Homo sapiens: one gene and its partner. The protein of the gene in region 2 interacts with the protein of the main gene of each other region in a pairwise test. Each region holds a gene or a part of one and is shown on either strand. Other genes may lie near its edges.

Region 1 (7,946 bases), on a different chromosome or scaffold from region 2:
TACATCTCCGCTAAAAATACAAAAATTAGTTGGGCAAGGTGGTGCATACCCGTAGTCCCAGCTACTAAGGAGGCCTGGGCGGGAGGACTGCTTGAGCCCGGGAGGTGAGCAGTGAGCCGACATCCCACCACAGCACGCTAGCCTGGGTGACAGAGCGAGACTCTGTCTCAAAAAAAAAAAAAAAAAGGAATCACAGTATTTTTAAATTTCTACCATTATCATTCTATAAAATATGATTGAGATTACAGTGTGCACTTGATCTTAGCCAAAAGATCCAGAATGACAGCTCACACTTTATATTACAATTTGTATTCTACTTTTCCTGATATTTTGATTAAATTGTGCTATGTTTTCCCTATGACATTTCCCTATTACATTTCTTTGTAAACATCATTTTAAATAAGTGTACAGTGTTACATTGCAGGCATACCATAAGTTTAGCCATTTCCCTTTTGTAAGATACTGACCCTTTTCTAATTTTTTCTACAGTTTACATAAATTGTAAAAAAAATATATTGTGTGAATGTATTTTTAGTAATTCAGATATTCCTTCGGGTAGATTTCCATGAGTTGAATTTTTAGATCCAATAGATGTATTTTTTCTTTTTTAAATTATAAAATATTTTAATGTAGAGATAATTACATGACAAAGATCCCTAAATGCACCAACCGTCTTTTAAGGGATACACACCCTTTTATTTATATATTATGTCTGTAAGATTCATCCATTTTGTTGGTAGTAATTTGTTTGTTTTTTTTTTTTTTTTTTTGTGAGACAGGGTTTCACTCTGTGGCCCAGGCTGGAGTGCAGTGGCATGATCACGGCTCACTGCAGCCTGAACCTCCCACGCTCAAGTGATCCTCCTGCCTCAGCCTCCTGAGTAGCTAAGACTACAGGCACACACCACCCATGCCTGGCTAATTTTTGTATTTTTTGTAGAGAAGGGATTTTGCCATGTTGCCCAGGCTGGTCTCGAACTCCTGGGCTCAAGCGATTTGCCCACCTCAGCCTCCTCAAGTGCTAGGATTACAGGTGTGAGCCATTGTGCCTGGCCAGTAGTTTGGTCTTTTTCGTTGCTGTGCAGATTCAGTTGTATGAATATAGCATAATTTTTGTCCATTCTATTGTTGATAGACATTTGAGTTGTTTTCATTTCTTGTCATTATGAGTAAAGCTCTTAACATTGGTGGACACAAGTATGTATTTCTCTTAGGGATATATCCAGGAATAGAATTGCTGCCAGACAGAAAAATATATATGTATTTGTAGCTTTAGAGGGTATTGCCAGTCTTTTTTTATTTCTTTCTTTTTTATTTTGAGACAGTCTCACTCTGTCGCCCACGCTGGAATGCAGTGGCGCAATCTCAGTTCACTGCAATCTCTGCCTCCCGGGTTCAAGCGATTCTCCTGCCTCAGTCTCCTGAGTAGCTGGGATTACGGGCATGTGCCATCACGCCTGGCTAATTTTTGAATTTTTTTAGCACAGACGAGGTTTTGCCATGTTGGGCTGGTCTTGAACCCCTGACCTCAGGTGATCCGCCCACCTCAGCCTCCTAAAGTGCTAGGATTACAGGCGTGAGTCACCACGCCCAGCCATTATCTCTCATTTTCTAAAGTGGTAGTACCATTTTATACTCCGAACAGCAATAAATTGTAGTTACATTCTTACTAACTGCTAACTCATTTATTTACTAGCATCTGGACTAACATTTGGTATTGTCAGTCTTTTTAATTTTAGTCATTCTGGTAAGGGTGTAGTGCCCACCAGCCATCTCCAACAGATTTTAACATATATGCTTCAGATCTCTTTTAAGAAATATAAATTTAAATATTCATTAGTGAATCTAGTAAGGGATGTGTGTGCGTGTGTATATATATATATATTGTATATATACACACACATATACAAGAAAATAACATACATATTATATAAAATAACGTATATATACACATACTGTATATATACACACACAAACTATATATATATATGTGTGTGTGTGTGTATTTTGGAGACAGGGTCTCACTCTGTCATCTAGGTTGGAGTAGAGTGGTGTGGTCTTGCCTCACTGTAGCCTCGACCTCCCAGGCCCAAGCAGTCCTCCTACCTCAGCCTCCTGAGTATCTGGAATTATAGGTGTGTGCCACCACACCTGGTTAATGTTTTAATTTTTGTAGAGATGGAAAACTGCTTTGCTGCCCAGGCTGGTCTCGAACTCCTGAGCTCAAGGATTCCTCCCACCTTAGCCTCCCAAAGTGCTGGGATTATAGGCATGAGCCACCGCACCTGGCCAAGGTCTGTATTTTTCTTATTGTACTAAACTTGCAACTTTTCTGTAGATTTAAAAATTTTCAAAATACTGTAAATAGTTTAAAAATATATAAATTTTAGATATAGCTGAAACTAACTACTTACCCTTTCCCAGCCTCCTAAAGTAATTACTATCCTGAATGTAATGTTTATTGTTTTTTTTTTTTTTTTTTGAGACAGCGTCTCACTGTCACTGAGGCTGGAGTGCAGTGTCATGATCTCAGTTCACTGCAACCTCCGTCCCACGGGTTCAAGTGATTCTCCTGCCTCAACCTCCTGAGTAGCTGGAATTACAGGTGTGCGCCACCAGGCCCGGCTAATTTTTTTTTTTTTTTTTTTTTTTGTATTTTTAGTAGAGACGGGGTTTCAGCATGTTGGCCAGGCTGGTCTCGAACTCCTGACCTCAGACTAACCGCCCGCCTCAGCCTCCCAAAGTGCTGGGATTACAGGCGTGAGCCACTGTGCCTGGCCTGGTACAACTAATTTTAAAAGCAGGTTGACACTCTAGTCCAACTGGCAGATGTGCATACCCCATGCCATTGTAATTTTTCCCCCTAGAAAAACTCCTATTCAGTCGTACAGGGAAATGAGTATAAAAACATTTGCTGCTGCCATGTTTGTAATTGTGGACAATTGGGAATAATCTTTATACCTCATCAATGAAAAAATAGACCAATTATGGTTCATTCATGTAGAATACTATACAGTAGACTATGAACCAGAGTTACATGAATCAGAATTCGTATTTCTCAAAAGCATAATGTGGGCCGGGCACGGTGGCTCACGCCTGTAATCCTAGCACTTTGGCAGGCTGAGGCAGGTGGATCACTTGAGCCCAGGAATTCAAGACCAGCCTGAGCAACACAGTGAAAACCTGTCTCTATCTTTTTAAAAGGAAGAAAAGCATATTGTGGAACAACAACAGAAAAAAGCAACTTGCAGAATTATAAAGTATGATATCATTTGTATAAATTATAAGAAAATGTTAAATAGCGCTATTATATATAATTTGTAGAGTTATACATATATACCTGAGAACAATAAACATTACATTCATGCAGCCAGGCACAGTGGCTCATTCCTGTAGTCTCAGCACTTTGGGAGACCAAGGCGGGCAGATCACTTGAGCTCAGGAGTTCGAGACCAGCCTGGCCAACATGGTGAAACCACATCTCCATTAAAAATACAAAAAATTAGCTGGGCATGGTGGCACGCCTGTAGTCGCAGCTACTCAGGAGCTTGAACCCAGGAGGTGGAGGTTTCAGTGAGCCGAGACTATGCCACTGCACTCCAGCCTGGGTGACAGAGAGAAAAAAACAGTTGTACCAATTTATACTCCCACTAGCATTAGATAAAAGTTCAAATTATGCCAGGCATGGTGTCTCACATCTGTAACCCCAGCATTTTTGGACTCTGTCTCAAAAAAAAAATCCACATCTTTTACAACACATGATTGTTAGATTTTTTAGTTTTTGCCTATCGGATGATATATTCTTATTTACATTTTCATTTTCCTTATTACTAAGGGGGTTGAGCAGCTTCTCACATTAGGCCTTCCTCCTCTGCCCACATGACATGACTATTCATATTCTTTCCCTGTTTCCTACTGGGATATCATTTTCTTTTTTTCGTTTCTTTTCTTTTTTTGAGACGGAGTTTTCCTCTTGTTGCCCAGGCTGGAGTGCAATGGCATGATCTCGGATGACTGAAACCTCTGCCTCCCAGGTTCAAGCGATTCTCCTGCCTCAGCCTCCCGAGTAGCTGGAATTACAGGCCTGCGCCATCACAGCTGGCTAATTTTTGTATTTTCAGTAAAGATGGGGTTTCACCATGTTGGCCAGGCTAGTCTCAAACTCCTGGCCTCAAGTGATCCACCCACCTCGGCCTCCCAAAGTGCTGGGATTACAGGCATGAGCCATCGTGCCCAGGCACTGCCATGGTGTTTTTTGTTTGTTTGTTTGTTTGTTTTTAAAGATAAACCTCTGGGGTTTCTGGAAAGTAAAGCCCCATGCTCCAAACAGCTCTGCTATACCTGTGTGCAAAATATTTTCATCTCTCTCTCTCTCTCCCCAAAGTGCATGCAAACACATATGGAACTGACATAGGCATCCACTGTCGCACTTCAAATTAAACAGACGCACACGACAGATATTCTCACAGAAAAGCAGTCAGCCAAGCCCAGAACCCATAGATCTAGGTCCACACTCACGCCTCTGCATGCTCCCCAGAAAGACGGATGCATCGCCCGCAGGTAGAGACGGGCTCACCAATCCCACTCAAAACCCGCTGCCGGCTTACAGCTCGCAAGCCGCCCACAGTGCCAGCCCCATGCCAAGCATCACTAGGGGCTCTAGAATAGGCAGGGGCCTTGTTCTCACTTCCTTTGTGTTGCTTTTATTTTAGTTGTTTTGTTTGTTGTTTTTCTTAGAGTTATCACCTGCCCCTCTGTCTCCCTACCCAGCCCCCAAGCCTCCCCTCCAAGCCTCCACTGCGCATGTGCCGTGCATCCCTGCCCCTTCTGGGTACCCGTAGGCGCTCCCGGGCGCTGGCGGCGGCGGAGGAGAGGGAGCAGCGTCACGGGCGCCCGGCCCGTTAAAACGCTGCTGGCTGGAGCCACCTCCCTCCCTGCAGCCCGCAACGGGAATGGAGTAAAGGGAGACCCGTCGACCTGGCCACGGGGATCAGCGATGGAATTAAAGCAATCTTTGTCCACCCATCTGGAAGCCGAGAAGCCTCTGAGGCGCTATGGGGCGGTGGAGGAGACGGCTTGGAAAACGGAGAGACTGGGGAGAAGTGAGTACTGGGGCGGGGGGCGGGGGGCCGGGGACAGCTGGGGATCCATGCGCCTGCGCGGGTGGTCGCGGGAGCGCGAGGAACGCCAGCAGTGGACCCAGGGAAGCGCCCCCGCAGCGGGGCTGGCAGCTCAGGGGGATACGCAGCTCTGCGCAGCGACGCGCTCTCCCCGCGAACAAAAGGGGGGGACCCTCCGGGCTGAGCCTCACTGGGAGGGTTGGGAGATGGCCAGGCAGCTAAGGCAGGAGCCTGGGCTCGACTTAGGAGTCCCGGATCCGTCAGCTCGCAGCTGGTCCTGTGAAGTCGGGTCTCTCCCACAGCCCAGGGAGGAGGATCCTCTCTCCGCCTGGGATGCGCCAGGGCGCTGGAGACGCGGGACCGTCCTGGAAAGCGCCCACGTCCCTGGAGAGGGGGGAGTGTCTGCTGGTTTTCCGCTTGCTTTCCTACCCCCTGCGTGAGGTTTCGGAGCGCACCTGAAATTCCCAGCTTTTCCTCCCTCGCCTTCCTTGGGTCGGGGTGGGAGGCTTGGGGCGGCAAAAGGGTCAAAAGGCACACACCGTTCTCTTTTCTCTCTTGACTCAGTTAAAGTCTGCTTGGGCACAACTCTAGAAGGCAGTTTCGAAATAGACCGGCTGTATTTATTTACTGGTTCTCTCTGCGGTGTTTGGATGTCAACATTTCTAAGTAAACGAAGGATTTTGTTTTTCATTAATAGGATACAATAGTTGAAACTCCTGCCCTCAAAGTGTAGAGGCAGCGTCAGGGGCTCCAGGGTCACTGGAGGTCCCTGCAAACCCGGGGGCTCCCCAAAGCCGCTGCTCTCACATGGCTTGCCCACCAGGCTGGGAAGGAGAGGTCCTTCTCAGGGACCCGGCAGCTTCCTGCCTCGGCTCTGGGTCACTGCTCCGCGCTCTGCCCCAGCACGGATCTCTGAGCGATGTAGGGCTAAAGTATTGTGAATGTGATCTTATTCTGTCCTCACCTGGTGGAAAATTGTGTGTGCGCGCTTTCTTTCTCTATACCTGTAATTATGGATTTAGAAAATCTTCCTAGAAGGGCTCAACTGTGTTCTGATTCTGACGGGTTGAAGTTGAAATCACAATCCAATGTCTTAGTGGTTCATGGGCTAGGATGGATGTCATAGCACTGCCAACCTCTTTCCTTTTCTTTTTTTTTCTCCCTTTTTAACCTTGGTCTTTCTTTCTAGTTCATCCTTTCAAGACCCAATGACTTGGTGCTTTGGCATAATATCAGGGCGTCAGGGCTGAGGGTCTCTGTTTCTTTCTTTAATTTTTAAGTGCACATAGTGGGTGTCCATATTTATGGAATACATGAGATATTTTGATACAGGCATACAATGTGTAATAATCACATCAGGGTAAACGGGGTATCCAAAACCTCAAGCATTTATCCTTTTTTTTGTGTTACAAACAATCCAATTACACTCCTTTTTTAAAAAAGCCCAGCTGTGTGACTAATTATACTCTTTTAGTTTAGCTTTTTTTTTTTTTTTTTTGAGACGGAGTTTCGCTCTTGTTGCCCAGACTGGAGTGCAATGACACAATCTCGGCTCACTGCGACCTCCACTTCCTGGGTTCAAGCGATTCTCCTGCCTCAGCCTCCAGAGTAGCTGAGATTACAGGTGCTCGCCACCATGCCTGGCTAACTTTTGTATTTTTAGTAGAGATGGGGTTTCACCATGTTGGGCAGGCTGGTCCCGAACTCCTGACCTCAGGTGATCGGCCTGCCCTGGCCTCCCAAAGTGCCGGGATTACAGGTGTGAGGCACCCCACCTGCCCTCTTTTAGTTATTTTTAAATGTACAATAAATTGTTGACTGTAGTCATCGTGTTGTGCTATCAGATACTAGATCTTATTCATTCTATCTACCTATATTTTTGTACCCATTAACCATCTCTGTGTCCCCCCATCCCAATACCCTCCCCAGCCTCTGGTAACCATCATTCTACTCTGTATCTCCATGAGGGTCTCTTGTTTCTTACAAGCTCAAAATAATCTCAACAATGGCTGCCTTTTATTGCTAGATGACCATGTGCTGAGAACTCTAAATGCATCATTTCATTTAGTCCCCTCAACAACCTCCTGCAGTACTAAGATTTATAAATTTAAATCTTGCCTAGATTTAAAAAAACATTTTAAAATAAAAATTTTAAAACAAAACATTTTAAAATAAAAAATTTAAATATAAATTTAAAATCTTGCATAGATTTAAAAAAACAAAACAAAACTGGGACTTGTTAGGTGATCTGACAGTTAAGTGGCAGAACCAGGATTTGAACCCCGGTCTGTTGGACCCCAGAGCCTGCTTTTAACATGAAGGTTTATTGCTTTCATGGTTTCAGAAAACTTCCTAAGTCTATTGAGATAGTCACAGAACATGCTCAGTGATTTTATAATTATGTGGCAGCCCTGTTGCTCTCTGAAGCTCACAGAGGCCTTAAAAAAATGCTGGGTCCACGCAGAATGGAAGCTGTTCACAAGAGTGCTGCTTTGAATCCTCACTCTGTGCCTTGCTGGCTATGTGACTTTAGGAGTATTGCTAAGCCTCACTCTGCCTTCATTTTCTGAAAATAGAGATTATGTCTTTATTGTGTATACTAAATAAGATGATACATATAGTACTCAAGGTTAAGTGCTCAATACGTATTGTTCACTTCCATTCGGTTACTGCACAACATTTATAGACAGAACCTGCTTTTACTCTTTGCAAGGAATTATGTAAATATTGGTCAATTCTTCAATAATGCCCTTGTAGCTTTTTATATCTTAACATTTTATGAGAAAAAATTTGAAACATGCAGGAAAATTGCAGCAAGCACCCAAT
Region 2 (7,070 bases):
TTTCCCCATATACGGATATGAGTGAATGCCCAATCTATGATAGAATTTCCTGGAGAATTTCTATGGGTTTCTCAGGAGACCCATCCCTCATATCCTTTATAGCCAAAACTTGCAATTTATAGATGTCGAAGCCCTTTAGCATAAGTGATCTCGACAGCTTATCACCACCAGGTCCCTGTGAAATGCAGAGAGCACCTAGTATTATTTGCACTATATGGAGAATAATAGCTAAGAGTTATTGAACACTCACTATGTGCTTGGCACTTATGCTAAATATCTTACAAATACCAAATTCATGTATAATACTATTAATTTCTCCACTCTACAGATGATGAAACGGAGTCTTAGGCTAAGTAGTTAATTTAAGGCCAAACATTTAGTAGAAGATATGGCTGCAATTTGAACTTGGCTGCCTGCCTTCAAATTCCTAACTTTGAACCTCTGCTCAGATGAACAAAATGGAAATCAGACATTTTAGCAACTCATTCGAGGATCTACATAGCATTAACAGATATTGGTCTTGTCTCATCCTTGTCTCATGGAGATCTTCAGTAGAGATCTTAGTTCTCTAGTAGAGAAAGAATTCACTAAACTATAGGAAGGAGATTAAACAGATAATACCTTTTCCAAGTGAAAAAACAAGTCTCAAAAGATAGTGTAAGTAAATTATAACTGTACACTAGAATATTTGGTGGCCAGGAAAAAATGTTTAAGGATTTTTTAAGGAAAGTAAAGCATTTTTCCATTCCAATAGAAAAAGTAGCCTATAAACTATTAATGCTTTCAAGTCTGTTTGAATACATGTATCTATACACATACATATATGCACACATATACATACACATAGCTAGTTATATGTATGTGTTTGTGGGTACATGTATGATCATATCACTTCTAATTTTTAATTTTTTTTTAATTTTTGTAGAGATGGGGGGGGTCTCACTATGTTGCCCTGGCTGGTCTTGAACTCCTGGCCTCAAGCAATCCTCCTGCCTTGTCCTCCGAAATTGTTGGGACTACAGATGTGAGCCACTGTGCTTGGCCTTGATTGTATCTTTTCATAATAGAAAAGTTTAGAATTAAATGCACTAAAATATTAACAGTATTACCTCTATGTTATGGAATTATGGGTAATTTTTACTTTTTCTCCTATATTTTTCTCTGTTTCCCCCCAAAAGATCAATCATATTATTTTTCCTCTCCATATAGGTTTATTAATATTTTATTTACTTAACATTTTTATTGAGATAATTTGCATACTGTAAAATTCACTCATTTTAACTATACCATTTGATGATTGTTATTAAATTTATAGAGTTGTGTATCCATCACCACAGTTCAATTTTAGATCATTTCTAGAAGATTTCTCAGGCCCATCTGCAGTCATCCCTTATTCCCACCTCCCAGCCTTAGGCAATCCCTAATCTATTTTCCATCTCTATAGATTCGCTTTTTCTGGAAGTTTCACATAAATAGGATCATACAACATATGCTCTTTTGGGACTGACATATATTGTGTTCTTTTAAAGAGAGGGAAATGAATAAATATTCTTTGGTTCTTTGCCTTTCCCATCCAATCCAAGCAAAAGCCTGTTTTCTTCCTCTTAATACTATAATAACTAATTATCAACAGAGTTTCCTTTACTCCTGTAGTTCTTGACCAGCAATCAAATCCCTTTCAGATCACAAGATAATCTATAGGACAGTAAAGCTATTCCTGATGTTTTAAGGATCTCTGTTTTTTAATTCCTCACACATTTCTCTATTTTTACATTAAAAAACTGATTTATAACTATTTTGTTCTTACCCTCTGGACAGTCATTGTAGACATGCCCTATACTCCCATTCTATTGGCAGAAACAGGGACACCATCACTGATGTGGAAGGGTTTGGAATCAGACAGACCCAAATTCCACTCCGGGGCCCCATCTCCTGTAGCTGGGTTATGGACCCTTCCTGAGTTCAGTGTCTTAGTGAGTATCTTGGAGTTACTTGTACCTACCTCCAGGGCTGGATGAAGACATGAGCATGCTCTGGACAAGCTAGTGATTGTTGGTTCTCCTTCGAAAGGATGTTCTTTAAATAAGTCTTCAACTTCTCTTTAGAGAAGAGGCAGGGCCCCCACACAGCAAAACAAAGGCCTTGCAGTTCATCAGAGCTACACTCCTTAAAATGCACTGTGGACTCCTCGAGGGTCTCACTCTCACTCCCAGCAGCTCATCAGTGTCTTCCTTCCAATCCAATTAACACTCTCCCTGAAAGTACTGATACATATCATTTTCAATATTTCACTACATTTTCAAGGATATTTATTGCTGTTTGTGGAGTAGTGTCTTTCTGGCTCTGCCTCATAGAGTGTTCTGAAGATTAAATGGGATCACACATGTAAGGAGTACTGCACAGGGTCTAACACTCAGTGGATGTTCAATAAATGGCGACTATTATTAGTATCATAACCAAAGCTATGGCAACTCTGAGCCTCTGTGTGATGACAGGTGATGTGCAGCTCCTTTCTCCTCTAGCTCCTTACCTGGAAACCTTCTTTGCAGAAAGGCATTTTCAGAAAGCTTTTGGTGACCTTGAAACATTCTCAGGTGCTCTCTGATGTCTTTATAAATGAAACTTAATATATATAGGAGATACAGTTCCTCCTTCATACCTGTATAGTAAAAAAGCCACAACATAAATACCTTTGGTTAATCTTTCTATAGTATATTATTTTAAATATTAGCATAAACATGATAGAAATTAACAGAATGAAGGTTAACTGGGGGAAAAGCCCTGAGCAGGGAGGGAGGAGTTGCTGTGGGAACACTGTGGCAGGTCTGAAACTAGATCCTGGCTATCCAGCAGAGGGAAATGGCACATATTTGGAGGCTTTTATATCATGGTAATAATTGTTTTATTAGGATCAAAGCATCCCAGAAAGCACTTGCTCTTTCCTTCTCTCCAGTCCCCCTGACTCTCCCCTGAGCAGGGTTGGATAGGAGGTTTGGTGGGGGGAGGAGGCAGGGAACAGTAGAAGAAAGCAATGCTATGTCCCTTTCCCCCATTGTCTGGCCCCAAATGTAGTGCCATAAATATCAAAACAGTGCTTGGTAATAGTCCAAAACATTTAACTTGTCCGCAAATTCCTAAACAACCATTGGCGTGTAATTTGGTTCTTGGCAGAGTGTAACTGAATAACTTGTAGACATGACATTTGTGTGAACATCTACAAGAGACAGGCCGTTATCACCACCCATTCAACACTCCAGCCAGAGGAAGAACAGCAAGGGGGCCAGCCATACAAGTTCACCTGCGCGTCCGGGGTCTCGGTTCTGCTGTGGCCCGGCTACTCCCCATTCTCAACTGTGTTTTCTTCACCATGCAGGTGATGGAAGCCCAGGCAGGCCCAGGGTTCAAGGCCAGTGACTTCAGCCTGTCACCCCCTCAGACCACATCGGGCCCACCGGCCTCCTCCCTCCCTGCCCCTCAGCCCTGCCCGCACTGCCCCCCATTGCGCCCAGCCCTTCCTCACCCCGCAGGAGAAGCTGGCCTCTCATTCCTCACTGAGAGACTCGACGGGCGTCCCCACGCCAAGCCTTCCTCGCCCTCCCCTCCAGCCTTTTCTGAAGGGGAGACAGCAAAGGTGAGCAAGCAACCGCCGGCAAGTTTCGACAGCTGCTGAGGAAGACTCATGGGTTTCTAAGGAAACAGAGAGGCAGCAGCCATTTTAGTAGCATTTGCTGTATGAAAAATATATAGACACTGGCAGCCCTCTCCCCACTCTGCCTTGGCGCCTGCCCTCCCGCCCCGCCTCAGAGGCCCCGGGGTGAGGGTGGGGCCCCAGTCTCCGAGGGACGCAGCGGACACCTGTCGCAGGTGGCCGGCCACCGGGGTCGCCACCCCCAGTGTCCCCCAGCAGCGGGACCGCGGGGTCCCCACCCCGGGGCGGAATCCCCACCCACGGGCGCCGCAGTGCAGCGGCGGGCGGGCGGGCGACTCGGCCCTCCCCGCACCCGCGTCCCGCCCCCCGGGTCCCCTCCCTCTCCCCACCGCCCCAGGCCGCGGGAGCCCGCGGGGAGGGCGGGCCTGTCGCAGCCGCGCTGGTCGCCAGGCGTCCGGGAGGAGCGGGGTCCGCGCGGCGGACGAGGCGGGGGCGGAGGCGCAGGCAGAGCGAGCGCGGGAGGTCGCCGCAGCCAGGGACACCGCGCGCCGCCGCTCAACATGGTCGCTGCGCACGCTGCCCATTCTTCCTCCTCTGCCGAGTGGATCGCCTGCCTGGATAAAAGGTAGCTCGCCGGGGGCCGCAGCCGGGGGCCGAGCTCTGCGGTGCTGCCCGGGCCCTGAGACCGCCGCAGCTCCGCACCTGGGCGCAGCGCGGCCGGGCTGCGGGTGGCCGGGGTCCCCGAGCGGGGGAAGGGGTTGAGGTCCTCGTCCGGGAGACAGGAGGACAAGGATCCCCGCCTCTCGTGGGGTGCCAGCGGCATGAGATTATTACACGTGGTGGAGAAAATGCAGCGCAGTAAGGGGAGAGAGCACCCACCTCTCCAACCCCCTGCCCTGCCGCGACTCCAGGCTCCGCTCCTGGGTGGGGGTTTATTTTCTCTTGGCATCACGGGACAGAAGAATCGATGCATACCCTTTCCGGCTATTCAGACCTTGCGGGGTATGAAGTTTTAAAGAGGGGTGGGGGCACCGGCAGGTGCAGAGTAACATTCTTTTTTTGTTCTTGAAAGCAAAGTGTGAGGGACCCGGTGGAGCTGTCGAATCCCTTGCTGAAATTCACAGCTCTCTGCCCCCGCAGTCGCTCGCTCAAGGTCTGTGTTAGAGAAGGTCATTTGGGAGGCTGCTTTCGTCTTAATACCTGCTTCTCGGGAAAAGATCTTTACGCTAAAAATAATTAAAACCATAAAGCATGTAACTCCCGACGACAGCTCTCTCTAAGGAGGATGTGTGTGTTAACAGTGGATTGCAGTTGTTTCCAGGCTGTGACAGCATAATTTTCTGTTTGTCCAGATTGCAGGTTTAAACGTTACACAGTATGTTAGCAATTATAGCTTATTACCCTGATTAAAAGGTGATGCATCTGAACTTTTAAGAACTGAGCAAGAAATCTTGCAGAGTGAACTGCCTCTGAATTTCGGAGTTTGATGCAGAAGGGCAATGATGCACGTCTTGCAGCTATCTGCATGACATCTCTATTTGCATTTGTGTGAAATATTTTGTGCTCTGCCATATTGAAAAATTTTCAATTAACAGATTCGTAACCAGATCAAACTTGAAAATCTTAAGTGTGACGTGCTTTGCATACTCTATTATAGGCCTTTGTTGAAAAATATTAAGTAATTTGAGAAAAGCTAAATGTAGCTCATTTGAAAAGCTTAATATATCTGAGAAATAATCTTGACTTTCAATTACCACTCAGTAGCAAGATTTTTTGGCAGGTAGTGCCCTATTTATGTCTAAAATGATATGTACTAATATTAAAAGAGTTGCATGCAATAAATAGTAAGAGAATTAAAGTAATAGTTAAATCACACAGGATTATGTAGAAGAACTAAGAGTATTTAAAGTATAGAGGTTGTTAATGTGATAAGTATCTACATTTAATAGTTCAGGAAAAAGGAATTATATGGGATTCAGGATCTTGCACTTAACCTATAAATAGTAGTGCTTCCTTATGAGCAAAATTTTTAGATAATAACATATTTCTATGTGTAGAAATGCATGGCATGGCATTTTTTGAACAGTCGGTAATTCACTGGAAACCCGTTAGTCAATAAGAAGTACTTATGGCAAAATCATAGAGCAATACTAACACAAGTGGGACATATTCGACTCTCTCTTTTCATAATGTGTATCTGCCTAAATGATTTTGCTTGAAATGGATTTTTTAGAGCATGGTGCCCCCATTTAATGCCACCATTCATAATGGGAAAAAAATCTAGGAAAAAAAAAAAAACCCTTCACAGATACTGAGCCTAGCATCAGAAGAGTCAGATGAGTGGATAGATCAATAAGTTAAGGGTTTTAGGCACAGAGCTGTTACCAGTTCTGATATTGGACATGTCACTTTTACTTCCTTGAGTGTCTGAAAAATGAGGATAGGACTATCAGGGATAAGTGGACAAATGGAAGGAGAAAAAAAAGGTGAAATAGTTTGAAAACTGTGAGTGCCATGTAGGCTTTTTGTTTTGTGGTATTAAAAGAACTTTGCATGTTCTGCAGTGTTCATGCCAGAATTAATTCCAATGAGGAACAGTTTAGGGCAGCAATCTCATTGTATGAAGGCCATGGGGGGACTTGTTTTGAAGTTGTGTTTTTACTTAGATTGTTTATTTATTTATTTTTTTTAGGAAAGGAGAAAGGTTGAGAGTGTTTATGGAAGTTGGCTAGGGAAGCCCCCTGAAACACCTGTTTAGTGGAGACACTGCCCTCAATGTTTCTGAGAAATGCTGTCTTGATCCTCTTTTCCAGGCACTGTGAAATGCTATCTTGATCCTCTTTTAAATGCTATCTTGATCTTCTTTTCCAGGCACTGTGCTGGGCACTGGGGATGCAACAAAATATGAGAGTTGCTTGTAGGCTTAGAGGGTAGGGGAGATTGGTGGTGGGACGGCTCTATAAACAGCTAACCACAATGCAATAGTAAGTGCTTTAATGGAGATGTATAAAGTGCTTTGGGAATGCAGATGAGAGAGTTATCGAGATACTTCCATAGGTGTCCTGCCTAGAACTCAGAGGCTGAGAACAATTTTACCAGGCACAGAATAGGGAGGGCATGCCAGGGAGTGGTGTGGCATATGAATATGCTAATTTCTTCCCAACCACAAATTCCTCTTGTGACCAAATCTAGAGTATAGGAATGTATGCTCTATTTTTATAAAATCTTTTTTATTATGGACATTTTCAACCCTGCACAAAAGAGAAAGTACAATGAACCCATGTGGGTTCACTTGGGAATATGATGCTGGGACCTTTCAACTGGGAAAAGGACGTAACTGGGAAACACAGTTCAAATATATGCCTCATTCAAGTGACAACTGTTGTGGATGGTGAAAAAAAGAGAAACCCTGGGACTGGAA

The links. The genes of interacting proteins can lie anywhere in the genome.
Region 1: the proteins of RAPGEF4 (region 2) and BMERB1 interact in binary tests that used the Homo sapiens proteins (3 or more experiments, as listed by UniProt).

What each region holds. Positions count from the first base shown.
Region 1 is NC_000016.10:15,429,658-15,437,603, forward strand, and holds the start of BMERB1 (bMERB domain-containing protein 1), read left to right. Parts: upstream 1-4,930; 5' UTR 4,931-4,996; coding exon 4,997-5,102; intron 5,103-7,946.
Region 2 is NC_000002.12:172,731,775-172,738,844, forward strand, and holds the start of RAPGEF4 (rap guanine nucleotide exchange factor 4), read left to right. Parts: upstream 1-4,070; 5' UTR 4,071-4,209; coding exon 4,210-4,274; exon of another isoform or gene 4,275-4,616; coding exon of another isoform or gene 4,617-4,651; intron 4,652-7,070.